Linked DNA regions of Homo sapiens: all the other regions are reported to be linked to region 2. The links are microRNA targets in miRTarBase. Many come from high-throughput screens and were not tested one by one. Region 2 holds a microRNA gene; each other region holds the end of a gene's coding sequence.
Evidence for each region. Region 2 holds the annotated microRNA hsa-miR-567 (AGUAUGUUCUUCCAGGACAGAAC, at 1,658-1,680, shown strand). A microRNA usually pairs through its seed, bases 2 to 8, with sites in the 3' UTR of a target mRNA and lowers its output. Matches are read on the target gene's strand: a 7mer-m8 pairs with bases 2 to 8, a 7mer-A1 pairs with bases 2 to 7 and ends in A, and an 8mer does both.

Region 1 (3,000 bases), not on the chromosome of region 2:
TGGATAGCTGCCATTATTTCCCTTCTCTTCTGCAAGTTCCTGAAGATTTAGAGGACTGCCCACTTTTGAAGATGCAGCATTTTACAGAAAGAACATGGGTCTCAAAAACCATAACCTACTCCAGGAATCCTTAAGGCAGATATCATTTACCTACACTGAGTTCTTTGTTGCCACCCTGTAACAGGCACAATGAGTTTGACTTCATCTCAGGAACTCGAATGAGGAAGCTCGCCCGGGAAGGAGAGAATCCCCCAGATGGCTTCATGGCCCCCAAAGCATGGAAGGTCCTGACAGATTATTACAGGTCCCTGGAGAAGAACTAAGCCTTTGGCTCCAGAGTTTCTTTCTGAAGTGCTCTTTGATTACCTTTTCTATTTTTATGATTAGATGCTTTGTATTAAATTGCTTCTCAATGATGCATTTTAATCTTTTATAATGAAGTAAAAGTTGTGTCTATAATTAAAAAAAAATATATATATATACACACACACATATACATACAAAGTCAAACTGAAGACCAAATCTTAGCAGGTAAAAGCAATATTCTTATACATTTCATAATAAAATTAGCTCTATGTATTTTCTACTGCACCTGAGCAGGCAGGTCCCAGATTTCTTAAGGCTTTGTTTGACCATGTGTCTAGTTACTTGCTGAAAAGTGAATATATTTTCCAGCATGTCTTGACAACCTGTACTCTTCCAATGTCATTTATCAGTTGTAAAATATATCAGATTGTGTCCTCTTCTGTACAATTGACAAAAAAAAAAATTTTTTTTTCTCACTCTAAAAGAGGTGTGGCTCACATCAAGATTCTTCCTGATATTTTACCTCATGCTGTACAAAGCCTTAATGTTGTAATCATATCTTACGTGTTGAAGACCTGACTGGAGAAACAAAATGTGCAATAACGTGAATTTTATCTTAGAGATCTGTGCAGCCTATTTCTGTCACAAAAGTTATATTGTCTAATAAGAGAAGTCTTAATGGCCTCTGTGAATAATGTAACTCCAGTTACACGGTGACTTTTAATAGCATACAGTGATTTGATGAAAGGACGTCAAACAATGTGGCGATGTCGTGGAAAGTTATCTTTCCCGCTCTTTGCTGTGGTCATTGTGTCTTGCAGAAAGGATGGCCCTGATGCAGCAGCAGCGCCAGCTGTAATAAAAAATAATTCACACTATCAGACTAGCAAGGCACTAGAACTGGAAAAGACCACAGAAAACAAAGAATCCAACCCTTTCATCTTACAGGTGAACAAACTGTGATGATGCACATGTATGTGTTTTGTAAGCTGTGAGCACCGTAACAAAATGTAAATTTGCCATTATTAGGAAGTGCTGGTGGCAGTGAAGAAGCACCCAGGCCACTTGACTCCCAGTCTGGTGCCCTGTCTACACCAGACAACACAGGAGCTGGGTCAGATTCCCCTCAGCTGCTTAACAAAGTTCCTCGAACAGAAAGTGCTTACAAAGCTGCCTTCTCGGATACTGAAAGGTCGAGTTTTCTGAACTGCACTGATTTTATTGCAGTTGAAAAAAAAAAAAAGCTATTCCAAAGATTTCAAGCTGTTCTGAGACATCTTCTGATGGCTTTACTTCCTGAGAGGCAATGTTTTTACTTTATGCATAATTCATTGTTGCCAAGGAATAAAGTGAAGAAACAGCACCTTTTAATATATAGGTCTCTCTGGAAGAGACCTAAATTAGAAAGAGAAAACTGTGACAATTTTCATATTCTCATTCTTAAAAAACACTAATCTTAACTAACAAAAGTTCTTTTGAGAATAAGTTACACACAATGGCCACAGCAGTTTGTCTTTAATAGTATAGTGCCTATACTCATGTAATCGGTTACTCACTACTGCCTTTAAAAAAAAAAACCAGCATATTTATTGAAAACATGAGACAGGATTATAGTGCCTTAACCGATATATTTTGTGACTTAAAAAATACATTTAAAACTGCTCTTCTGCTCTAGTACCATGCTTAGTGCAAATGATTATTTCTATGTACAACTGATGCTTGTTCTTATTTTAATAAATTTATCAGAGTGAAGGCTGAGTTTTTTCTGCCTGTACCATTGGGTGTGGGTTGACCACACAACTTAAGGGCTTTGTGACTTTGTATAATTGGAGTGAGACAGCAGCAACTCTCTTGAACATCATAACTGAGATTATTTACCCTTATTCATGTCTTTTTTATTTTTTATTTTTTTAAAGACGAAGTCTTGCTCTGTCACCCAGGCTGGAGTGCTGTGGCACGATCTCGGCTCACTGCAACCTCCACCTCCTGGATTCAAGTGATTCGCCTGCCTCAGCCTCCTGAGTGGCTGGGATTACAGGCATGCACCAGCACGCAAGGCTAATTTTTGTATTTTTAGTAGAGATGGGGTTTCACCATGTTGGCCAGGCTGTTCTTGAACTCCTGACCTTGTGATCCACCTGCCTCGGCCTCCCAAAGTGCTAGGATTACAAGCTCACTGCACCCTGCCTTTTTTCTTGTTTTTCTTTTTTTTTTTTTTTTGCCTGCAGTGGTGCAATCTTGGCTCACTGCAACCTCTGCCTCCTGGGTTCAAGCAAGAGTAGCTGGGATTCATTACTGGGTACATACCCAAAGAAATATAAATCATTCTGCTATAATGACACATGTACACGTTTATTGCAGCACTGTTTACAATAGCAAAGACATGGAACCAACCCAAATGCCCATCAATGATAGACTGGATAAAGAAAATGTAGTACATATGCACCATGGAATACTATGCAGCCACAAAAAGGAATGAGATCATGTCCTTTCCAGGGACGTGGATGAAGCTGGAAGCCATCACCTTCAAAAAACTAACATAGGAACAGAAAACCAAACACTGCATATTCTCACTAGTAAGTGGGAGGTGAACAATAAGAACACATGGACACACAGAGAAGAACATCACACACCGGGGCCTGTTGCGGGGTGGTGAGGGGAGGGAACATAGAGGACAGATCAATAGGTACAGCA
Region 2 (3,202 bases):
AGATCGCACCATTGCACTCCAGCCTGTGACACAGAGAGACTCAAACAAGACAAAACAAAACAGACCCAGTGTACATGGTACTTACGGTGACATCTCTGCACTTTATTTCAAGAAGTCCAGGCAGAGGTCCTAAAGTATTGAATTGAGGAAGAAAAGCCATTGCTTCCCAAAGGGTGCTGCTGCACATGGGTGGGAGGCGGCTAAATCCCTGGCACATGCATTTGTGTCTACAGGGGCATTGTGACCTCAGCCCTGGACTGGCCCAGCTAGAACCTGGAAAAATGCCCTTTGGTTTATTAGCTGCTAGACTCACTCCAGTGGTGGGCAGCTGGGCGAAAGGCCCTGAAAGTTGCTCTTTTCTCAAAATTCAGCCTCATGTAAATTTACCCTGTGACCTGCCATGGGGGATTAGGATGGGCTGGCCAGGCCAGGCTAGGTGGCCTGATTTTCCCATTCAGCTTCTGACCTGGTCTTCTGAAAGTCAGACTCTGGCCCTCTTCATTAGCCAGCCCAAGTCCTTGCCCCTGGGAATGCAGGGTGGCTGGCTGTGTAGGTGTTGATCATCATTAGCGATAATTAGAGGGCAGAGCTCAGGGAACAAGTTATGACACCTGCAAACTAGGTTAGCTGGATTGCAGTTTGAAAGTGCATTTTTTGGCCCTCCTTTAGTGGCATCCTTGAAACTATGAGTTTCTTCAGAGTCCTGACTCTCCATTATTCATTTGATCTGCAGGATCTGGCACATCTCCCAGCCGTAGTAGAGTTTATAAGCTCAATTGTCAGCCACCTTGTAAGATCGAAGAGTATCGGCCTATGTGACCTGTAGCCAGAAGAGGGAGCTCTTTGCCTATCCTTAGCAGGGGCAGTGGCCTGATTCACACTAATGGGACTGGTGCATCTGCAAAACTTCCCCAAGGTGATAGTCTCAGATGTGGCCTCCTGCTCATTATTTTATTGCTGGTTCTTAATCTGGCCCATCTTAAACCAAAGTAATAGGATAACTATGAATAAACTAAATGTTGAAGTAGCATTTAAAGAGTAGCATTAGACACTAATTAATGGAGGGTAGCCCTTGATTATTTTTATTTTGGAAATGGGAAAAAATGTTCTAGGAAGATGAAAATTCCCTTTCCTTAGGTCCCATTACTGAGAGTTACAGGGCTTGGTTATCTTGCCCTAGGGGCCTCTGGAAATGGGACAGAAAAGTTTCTCACTTTGGGGACAAACCAGGGAAGCCTGATTTGTTGCTGATACACAGGGTGGTCTCTGTCAACGTTCAGAAGTTCTGGACCCAGCCAATGGTAGGAAACTTTGGCTGTGCCTTAAACATTTTCATAGGTCAAATAAAGAATTGGTTAAACTAAATATCCCTGGCACACCTTTGTGGGGGCAATGCTGAGAACATGAAGAAGGAATGTGTGTGGAGAAAAGGGGAGGCTTCCCTGGCTTGCCTTAAGGGATGAAGGCTGGGGTTGGGACAGATGGTGGGTCAAGCCTGGGATCTTCTCAGCATCTTGACTGGAGATGGGCACCTCTACCTCTACCTCTGATGGCCTCTCCCAGTGGATTCCTAGAGGATAGGTACTAGGTGGAAGGAGGAGGTTAGGATCACCTCAACTTTTTGTGATGAATCTATGGAAGAGGATTCTTATAGGACAGTATGTTCTTCCAGGACAGAACATTCTTTGCTATTTTGTACTGGAAGAACATGCAAAACTAAAAAAAAAAAAAGTTATTGCTTAAATTCATTTCTTGAGTTGCAGTATGATGCTGTTTATGTTTTAATGTCTTCCATTGCCTTTCAGTGGTGAAAATGCCACAGTAACGTATGACCTGCAATTTGGGGTTCCATCAGATGATGAAAATTTTATGAAGTATATGATGAGTGAGGAGTTGGTGCTGGGCATTTTGCTACAGGATTTCCGTGATCAGAATATACCTGGTTGTGAGAGTCTGGGGCTTGATCCAACATCCCTCTTGCTCTATGGTAAGTAGAGCAAGTAAAGAAGTCAGAGTTGTGACAATAAACAGGTGAACCAGATTGGGGTCAAATTGGCTTGGTTCGATTTGGCAACTGTGGTGACTTGGTACTGTGTCAGACTATTCATTTATTCACTCATCCCCTCAGCAGATGGTGTTGCTGTGAGGTGATGTTCCCCTCTCTGTGGAGGCTACACAGTCCGTGCCCTCCATAATTAGACAGTGTAGTTGGGGAGCAATTATGGAAAAGATAATTCAACTATAAAGATGAACATTGCTACATGTTTCCTCATGCAGTTCACCCACATTCTAAGCCCTGTATCCTACTTTACAACATGATTAGCAACCTTTATGGAGATACTGTGGTTTCACAAGAGAAGTAAGAATTGAAGAATTGGAAATAAATGATACAGCTAAATTGCTGAAAGAGTATCTCAATATGGGGAACCTATTTCTTTTTCTGTTGAAGGCCACTGAGACCATTAAGAAATTAATAGAGGGGTATACAAAGACAAGTTTATTCCTTTCCTTAGAAAATTATGACAAATTTACTTGTCAACTTTTAAAATTAAGAACAGAACAAGGAAATAGATATGTTCTTTAATAAATGTAACAAACACCCCATTTATCAGAATCTGAGAACTTTTGACACTCAGAACAAAACCTGACAGAAAGGAAGGTCAGAAGGCCAAATGGCTTCAAGCCCTCAAAATATCCTTCCATTGCTTTGTAGTGAAGCTCTGGCCTTTGCTGCTGATCTCACTTTCTGATACCTCGCTCGGAGGCTTGTTTGCTCTTATTTAGCCCCTAATGCCAACAATCTTGAATATTTTATGTTCTCATCCACAGTCCATCAGAATCACTTTCTCCACATGAGTAGGTTCTCAGTAAATACTAGTTGAATGAATGAAAGGCAAATTAGAAGTAGTTGTGGTTGGCAGCAGGTGCATTAACGGTCTAGAATCAGAAGCATGGAACAGGGGGTTAAAAGCACAAGTGTTAGTGCATAGTACAAGACAAGGTGTTTATTATGATGATGACACTGTTTCTTGAGGATGAGAGGCAAGAGTAATGTTGGCCTAAGAAGGCAGAACGTTATGTAAAACAGTTCTTAAGAATGCCATTCAGAAGGCCAAATTTTAGCTCACTGGAAGTCTCATAAATGGAGATCTTCCTCACAGAGCATCCTGAATAAAGTGTGTCTGTGGGTCAGGCAGACACT
Region 3 (3,000 bases), not on the chromosome of region 2:
CACCTTGCGGAGACGCCGTTCAACACTGCACACAACCTTAGGAAGAAACTAGGCAGAATTCTCACACGAGAATTTCACTGATTTTTTTTTTCATTTAAATAACATGCTTCAAACTGGCAACCCTAGGACAGTTTGACTTTGCACACAAAGGAAAATCATATCTAATTTGATATGTGGTTTCTTGTATGTATGTATGTCCTGTCATTTCAGGATTTCATAGCATCGTTGACCAGGGAGCAGGTCAGGGATATGGGAACAGAGATGTTAATTCAGACTCTGAAGTCAGCATTTTGCACCTAGTTTGAATGACTCAAACTTAGATATGTACAATATATATATATATATATGTATGTATATATATACACTAATATGTATAGTAACCCTGTTCTCCCTTGCACACGAGCCTCCTCACACTTTCAATCATCTTCTGTTTCGTTCAATGTGTGTGTTAGGAGCACGACTCCCGCTGACCTCGTCCCGTCTACTGTGAAACAGCAATGTAAGGATTCCCACTGGCAAAGCAAATCTCCAAGGATGTGGGCAGGTTGGCCAGGGAAAACTGTGCAGAGAATTCAGCATAATGATACAGAATCCAACAGCGTGGGGTTCACAAGACAAAGGAGTCCCTAGGAGAGGCCAGTGAGTCCCCAAACAGCAGAGACCCTTTCGACCGAGGAACACAACACTGGGAGCCGAGCTCTACGGAAATGTCCGAATCAAAACGCGTGACTCTCCAAAGAATGCCCCATTTTCCTGACTGCTTTTCCTTTTCCACATTTGAAGTCCTACATGGAAACCTTCAGTACACCAACAGATAAATCAGTCTTAAAGCTAGGTGTCAATGTGTTCACTCCGACAACGTGAAGGCCAATTTGAACATTCTGACATTTCTATTACCAACGCCAATCTAAAATGTGAAACAGAGAAAATCTGCCACAATTGAATAGGAACTGAAATATCAAATAATAAAATAAGTACTATCGTTTCAAAAATATTTTTATCAAATAAGTATAAGTAAAAGTAAACATGATTTTCACTTTGAATTTGTTACATAAACTACCTCACGGCCACATCTTCTACTTCATGTTTTGATTTTTATTTGCCCTGGGGATCTTATAGATTTTATTTGCATCATAACTTATCATTTACCTATAATGGAATTTAAACTTGAAAAGTCACTGAAATTACCTTTCCATCTGGAATCATAAAGCATGAAACAAATAACAAATGAATGTATAAAATATATCATTGTGAGAGGAGAGTGTGTGTACTTTTTCCTTCCCTCTAAAAGAACACTTGGTATTTTGATCCTGAACAATTTTCACTGAGTTCAAGGTGCTACTGTGGTATATTGTCTTTCAATGCAATATCAAAGATCGATGGCACAGTAAAAGACAAAAAAAAAAAAAAACAAAAAAAAAACACTGCAAAAGGGAAGGCTGCATTGTGAGCTAAAACCCACAAGTTCATCGACTATCTAAAATAAATTACTATTCACAGTTTTACATGGCAAACAGAAATTTCTGCAAACCCCCTGCTATTAAGTAGTATCAGAGAGACAGTAATTGGATGAGGATGGTACTAAAGGAGGAAAACGTGTGAAATAAGGAGGCTTCTGTTTTTTTCTCATTGGACCTCTTCAATGAATTCAACACGTAAATGGAGCTAATTGAAGCAATAATAAAATAAATCTCTTCAATACTGTATTTCCTTTTAAAATCTGTGCCATATCTAGGAATACTTTTCCCTAACACTCCAACTAAGCTGATGGGGGAATGTTTAGCTTGATAATATGAAATAATGCTTATATACAATGGATAGTGTGTATAAACCCTGTGTAAATAATTTATTTTTTTTATCAGAATCTTAGTCATTCATAACACACTAGTGCAAAAAATTGTGCATTAAACATTCTGCGACAGAACAGCTGACTGGGAAATTGCAAACATCCCTAGAGATGAACACACAGGGGAGCTGTGAGGTCCTCAAAGCTTGTCAGGTCTCGGAAGGACAGAGTGAAGCATTTGTAGGTGTGAGCCTCTATCAGAAAGGTGTCTTCTTCCAGAAAGCTTTTTATTTTTTTCAGAGTATTCGTGTTCATGGGGGTTTAAAAAGGAAAAACAACACAAGAGAACACATATCGTGGTGCCACCATTCTGTCACCGCACCTGAGGGACATATCCACGAGCCCAGACGATTGCATTGAAAGGCATCTCAGCAACACAGAAATATGAAAGTCTGAGGCATTGAGTATGACGTGTTGGCGCGACGTGGCAGTCTTCCTGGAGTGTGCCTTGATTTCATACAGATGCAGCCAGGCATTTAGAACCCACTTTTGGAATGAAAACGCATGTGTAGTTTGATCCGTAGAAGACCCTGACACATTTGAGTAGAGATCCCCGCTGCACTTATGCCAGTAGACAAGGTTGAAGATCGCTGCAGTAAAGCCAGAGTGGAAGGGAGAGTGGTATATGGCACCAAAGGAATCACTGCTTGTCCATCAGAGGTATGGCTATGAATCAGTCCTGTTGGGGCACTGAGGGCTATACCACTGTACAGACTGTGTTCAGAGTTGTGTCAAACCTCACAGCCTTGGCTTCTGTGGGTTTTAAGTTTGTATCATACATGGGGTTTTCAAACGATGCTTGTCCATTGCTGTTTTCATGCCCAGCATAGCCATTGTATTGAACTTTTGGTCTCGTTCTAAGGAAAACAGAAAACAAATCATTAGAATCCTGGTTTCATTTGCAGATTTAGCAGCTGGGACTGTGTGCAGGAGACAACGTCTACAGAGCAGGGAGCAGTATAGCCAGGACGTTTGCAAAGAAGGAAGGCATCCACACCTGCACACCTGTCAGTTTATTTGCTTAAATTGGTGATTGGGAGTATAAAATGGGTTTTAAAAAGTGAATCGATTTCAAAAATTAAATAAAATTTTTTTGAGACAGGGTCTCACTCTGTTACCCAGGCTGGAGTGCAGTGGCACGACCACCACTCATT

Region 1: miRTarBase lists PAPSS2 as a target of hsa-miR-567. Seed matches in the 3' UTR shown: 7mer-A1 at 496-502.
Region 3: miRTarBase lists CSMD1 as a target of hsa-miR-567. Seed matches in the 3' UTR shown: 7mer-A1 at 347-353, 7mer-A1 at 191-197, 7mer-A1 at 187-193 and 7mer-A1 at 183-189.

Annotation. Positions count from the first base shown.
Region 1 is chr10:87,745,648-87,748,647 of GRCh38, forward strand. PAPSS2 (3'-phosphoadenosine 5'-phosphosulfate synthase 2) reads left to right here. Exons shown (of 13, transcript NM_001015880.2): 13 at 185-2,058. The coding sequence ends at 323. Among named protein-coding and RNA genes, the nearest start is that of ATAD1, 71 kb to the right of the region's middle.
Region 2 is chr3:112,111,159-112,114,360 of GRCh38, forward strand. It overlaps MIR567 (microRNA 567), which reads left to right and starts at 1,643; the gene lies at 1,643-1,740. C3orf52 (chromosome 3 open reading frame 52) reads left to right here. Exons shown (of 6, transcript NM_024616.3): 5 at 1,806-1,987.
Region 3 is chr8:2,936,042-2,939,041 of GRCh38, forward strand. CSMD1 (CUB and Sushi multiple domains 1) reads right to left here. Exons shown (of 70, transcript NM_033225.6): 70 at 1-2,703. The coding sequence ends at 2,544. The region is part of intron 6 of LOC105377785 (a long non-coding RNA gene); the gene reads left to right. Among named protein-coding and RNA genes, the nearest start is that of LINC03021, 210 kb to the left of the region's middle.